Regions from separate parts of the Homo sapiens genome. Here region 1 is linked to region 2. A link means that fine-mapping ties the variant in region 2 to the expression of a gene that starts in the linked region. Tissue or cell type: minor salivary gland. Region 2 holds a variant in brackets; the other region holds the start of a gene. All regions are shown on one strand. Distances are from middle to middle.

Region 1 (2,615 bases), 630 kb before region 2:
CACCATATCTGTCAGAATCATTACTTCCATTCTGCCTTGTATTTTCTGCTGAAGAAGAAATTGTTGCTGAAGGAGACGATCTTGATTCTGTTCCTTGCTCCCTCAGTTTCAAAAGCTATTTCTCATACAGCTTCCTGGTTGTTCCCACAATAGGACCACAATTCACTCCGTATTTCACAAGCTGATCCAAAGGATCTTCATTAGTGAGTTCTGTTACATCTAGATCGTCTTTATCATCTTGTCTGGGTTTATCAGTTTTCTTTGTGGCTTTCCTGCCGGCGGCGGGCTCGGAGCCGAGACGGCTGTGGGCTCGCGCTCCTCGTACGTAGCTGGAGAATTCCGGGGGCCCCTTTCTTTTGGCGCTGGCGGCGAGCGGCGGCCCTAACAAGTGATTTGAGACTGTTCAGTAGCTCAGATCCCTTGCAGCGGTTTGAGATTGAAGAGATTATGTAGGCAAAGTATTTTGCGTGAGCTCTTCAACCCCATGAGAGGATACATATGAACTGGACTGTCCTACGCCTCTTTACAGGCTCCGAAATTCAAAATATTGAAATATTTTGAAATTATTCGATTAGCTGCTATCCTTTGGATACAGATAACTCCTTCACTAAAGCGTTAGGGATAAGCAGCAGGAGTCAGTTTTAATATCATCATCCCCATTCCAAAATGGACCGAGAAATCATATAACTTTCTCCCGCCAGAAAGTTCAAATAAAACGCGCTAAAAAAAAAAAAAAAAACCAAACAAAAAAAAAACAAAAAAACCTCCCATTTTTTCCGGGGCGGGTGCAAGGTGACGGACGTAGATTCCTGCCAATTGTAGGAGGCTTCCTCAAGCGCGGTCCCGCCTCGTCAGGACGAACTACCAGCCAATGAGAGCACCGCTGCTTCAGCTATCGGGGGACCCATTGAAGAAGAAGAGTGGGTATTGGCCACAGCGTAGGGCTTCTGTCCAATAGGAGCATGCCTGCCGGCGGCTCTGGCGGGAGCTTGAGCGGCTCCGGAAGTGGCAGTTGGCGTAGGTGCATTCGGAGTGCGGCCGAGGTAACTACCGAGTCTTCGGCGGGCTCGCGAGCCCGGCCGCGGCCTGCTGGTTTCAGGTGAGGAGGGGTGTTGCTTCTCCTCAGGCCTTGGGCCTCTAGCTTCGGGATAAACCTCCCCACGCCTGATTCCTGGATTGGGATTCAGGAGACACCCCACGAGGTGGGCTGCACGCGGGCTTGGAACCCGGCGGCCTGAGGGGATTCGGGCCCTCGGGGCGGCGCCAGTGGTCGGGGCTAAGGAGCCCGAACCCCCGCGCGTATCTGGGTTGCTGGGCGTGGGGGCTGGGCAGGCGAGAGCTCGGGGCGATCACTGAAGGAGCCGAGTTCGCTGCTGCGGGGCCTGCCCTGGCCGGGGTGGGAGGTCGCCCGGCCCTTCCCCCGAGAGCCTAGCCTCGGGCTCCTCAGCGGCGTTGCCTGCGCCCGCTCTGAGCGCCGATTACTTCATCACTTTAAAGTTGATGGAAGAACTTCATTTTTAATTTCATCACGGAAACTGTGGAGTAAAGACTTGTATTATCCCTGTTTTACAGGAGAACAAGTTGAGCCGAGTTTAGGAAACCCGCCCAAAGTTTCCCCATGTAGTAAAAGAACAGGGATTTAATATCTATGTATCTAATCAATCTATCTATCTATCTATCTATCTATCTATCTATCTATCTAATCTGTCTATCTAATCTATCTATGTCTTTCTTTCCCCATGTAGTAAAAGAACAGGGATTTAATTTCCTTCTTTCCCTCTCTCCCTTCCCCTCCCGTCTCCCTCTCCCTCCTCTTCCCCCTCCGCCTCTCCCTCTCCCTCTCTCTTCCTCCCTTTTTCCTGTTATAAAGAGAAAAAGGTGTTATAAAGAGAAAAGCGGTGGCTCAGGCCTGTAATCCCAGCACTTTGGGAGGCCGAGGCAGTCGGATCACCTGAGGCCAGGAGTTCGAGACCAGCCTGACCAACATGGAGAAACCCCATTTCCCAGCTACTCGGGAGGCTGAGGCAGGAGAATCGCTTGAACCCGGGAGGCCGAGGTTGCAGTGAGCTGAGATCACGCCATTGCACTCCAGCCTGGGCAACAAGAGTGAAACTCCATCTCAAAAAAAGAAAGAAAGAAAGAAAGAAAAGTCTCCCTGTTGCACCCAGGCTGGAAGAGCTCACTGCAGTCTCGAACTCCCGGGCCCCAGGGATCCTCCCACCTCGGCTTCCCGCAATAGCTGGGACCACAGGTGCGCGCCACCACGCCCGGCTCATTGTTTTATTTTTCTTTTTTCTTTCTTTTTTTGAGATAGAGTCTCGCTTTGTTGCCCCTGCTGGAGTGCAGTGGTGCGATCTCGGCTCACTGCAACCTCTGCCTCCCGGGTTCAAGCGATTCTCCTGCCTCAGCCTCCCAAGTAGCTGGGATTACAGGCATGCGCCACCACACCCGGGTAGTTTTTGTATTTTTAGTGGAGACGGGGTTTCACCATATTGGCCATTCTGGGACTCCGACCTCAAGTGGTCTGCCCTCGGCTTCCCAAAGTGCTGGGATTACAGGTGTGAGCCACCGCGCCTGACCTGTTCTATTTTTCTTTTTTGGTAGAGATGGGAATT
Region 2 (2,760 bases):
CTCCGCCTCCCGGGTTCACACCATTCTCCTGCCTCAGCCTCCCTAGTAGCTGGGACTACAGCCGCCCGCCACCACGCCCGGCTAATTTTGTATTTTTAGTAGAGACGGGGTTTCACCGTGTTAGCCAGGATGGTCTCGATCTCCTGACCTCGTGATCTGCCCGCCTCGGCCTCCCAGAGTGCTGGGATTACAGGCGTGAGCTGCAGCGCCTGGCCAGGGTTTGTCATCTTGATTTTCCGTGTCTATGCTAAAATCTGCCTCCACTACTTCTTCTGAAGGACACAAAGGCTTATTTTTGTGGCCCCTATAAATGTATTTTTCTTATTTTCGAGTCCAGCTATGGGCTTTGAAAATCTTCCTTAAATTTTATTTAGGCTTTCTAGATGTGTTTAAAGGGGGAAGAGAGACTTTATACCTCACCTCAATCTGCTATCTTGGCTAGAAGAGCCTCCCATTTTTTTATCGTGTTATTTTCTTTTCGTTAGATTTGGATTCTACTATATATGTTATTTTTTCACTTTAAGAATTTACTATGAGCCTTTTATTATTAATCAAAACCATAACTTTTTAGTAGTTATTTTCCACAGAATGGATGTATCATTTATCTAGGCAATCTGATTGTTGTATATTGAGTTGTTTCCATTTTTTTGCTATTATAAATAATGCTTTTGTGAACATCTTTATATATCTTTGTGAGCATTTCTGCTAGGGCTATCTTCTTGGAAGTGAAAAAAAATACCATATAACAGGATAGGATCTCCATAACTTGAATGACTGAAACAGTAATAGTGTGAAATGGATATGTCATGTGAATTCCAAACATTAAGAAATGATAGGTAAAAAGAGGATGGAAGTGCAACGAATTAGAACTTTATACATTGCAAGCTTCATATCTCTTTTCATTTAGTTCATTCATACAAGTATTAGACATTATGTCAAGTATAATAATGAATGGATGAGGGGATCATTAATAAGTCATGCTTACTGTTCTTTGGAATAGTAAAGGTGAACTCTCAATGAAGATAAATAGAACTACAAATAAAAAGGCAGACATAAATAAATATCTACTAAAGGTAACAAGAAAGTGGTATGAGATCTGAAAGAAGGATCTACTCAAATTGGAGATGGGACGATATCTATCAAATGACGATTAACTCTTAAAATGACAAAAAAAAAAAAAAAGCTCAGGCAACACATGAACACATACATGGTTATAGGAGAAATAATTGCCTCTGTTAATAATTTTGTGAGTATGGTTATCTCAACAAGAATTTCCTTGTAGAAGTGGATGGCCTTTTACCAGGGCTCACTCCCAGTCCAAATGGTTTGTCACCACGTGAACAGCCAGAGCAACACTACTAAGGTTGTTCTCTAGCTTCCTGACAGCAGCCTCACCCCAACAGTCATCCCCTCCTTTCTTCTTCCCACCAGAAAATGCAGTTCTTCCGGTTTTCTAACATCTTCCTACGCATGGCTCTATGCTTCAGAGGATGCTAGGCCCATCCCCTGCTAGGGGGTCCCAGTGAATCCAAGTCAATCACAGAGCATTCCTCTTGCTCATGACTGTTCTAGACAGAGACACGTGATGTAATTGAGGCAGGAGGAAAATCTTGCTGAAAAAATTGTGCTGTGAATTGAATGCTGTACCCCCACCA[A/G]AAAGAGATACATTGAAGTTTCTTGAGGGGTTTCTTGAAAAGGTTTCTTCACTGTTAGAGGAGGGGAAAGATAGGAGGTCCTTTATTCACTGGCCATTGTTGGGTCTGGATGCTGTGTTTGAAACCATTGTAGTCATCTTGTGATCAGTCTTGGGCTAATGTCAACACATGGGAGAAGGCAACCTTAAGAGGAAGAGGAGGAACTTGAAGGCTGCCCTGCCTAAAACACTGTGATAATAAATGCCCATATGGTTTGAATTATGTTTTCTATTACCCAAAGCCAAAATTTTCCTAACTGATGCAGAAGGTAAGCTGGGGAGGCTTCAGAGTTGTACCCTAGGATTCCACTGTGGCCTCAGGACAATGGCTGAAGCCTACTAAGGTGTCTCATGCAGAGGTGCAAAAAAGATTCTAGCTGACTTGGGCTGCTTTTCTGTCTATTGCCTTTGGACAGCCAGTGGAATAAGTGGATATTTGCATTCTTGTATCACAATCTCTTTCCAGTCCTCCCTTCTCAGCCTAAACATAGAGTTCCCAGCTGATTTTCCACAGGGTTCCCAGCTGATTTTTGAATGACCTAAACCAAGAAGACTATTGCTAGCACACAATACTAATCCATATATTTCTTATTCAATTCCTTTGCCATGAAAATTAGGGGAAAAACACAATAAAAATCACTTGAGGCCAAATATAATGAAAAGCAAAAACTTTGTTTTCAAATGTGAAGTGATGGCTTTTATCCTTTGCTGTTTTTCTGTGAAATTTTCCCTTGTGTCTTTGCTGTGTCTTGCTCCTCACTTACTTTTAAACTTCAAAAAATTTATTTCCTCAGCTACTCGGGAGACTGAGGCACGAGAATCGCTTGAACCTGGGAGGCAGAGGTTGCAGTGAGCCAAGGTCATGCCAATGCGCTCCAGCCTGGGCGACAGAGCAAGACTCTGTCTCAAAAAAAAAAAAAAAAAAAAATCCAAATAACACCTATTTCTCCTGCCAAAAAGTCATAATATATTAGGTTAAGCTGATTTTAGAACTTTAAATTTATAATTGGAGATGCATGTCCGTTGCAGTTTGAGGTCATCTGTAGCAAGTGACTGATTTTTCTAGT

The links. PIP is the estimated chance that this variant, and not a neighbour inherited with it, causes the effect.
Region 1: RFWD3 starts here. The variant in region 2 is fine-mapped to the expression of RFWD3 in minor salivary gland (GTEx, PIP 0.97).

What each region holds. Positions count from the first base shown.
Region 1 is chr16:74,665,270-74,667,884 of GRCh38, reverse strand. RFWD3 (ring finger and WD repeat domain 3) reads left to right here and starts at 1,008. Exons shown (of 13, transcript NM_018124.4): 1 at 1,008-1,099. It also overlaps the pseudogene TMPOP2. RefSeq lists a silencer at 1,329-1,478.
Region 2 is chr16:74,039,262-74,042,021 of GRCh38, reverse strand. No RefSeq gene overlaps it. Among named protein-coding and RNA genes, the nearest start is that of PSMD7-DT, 170 kb to the left of the region's middle. The variant A/G (reference allele first, on the strand shown) is at 1,656.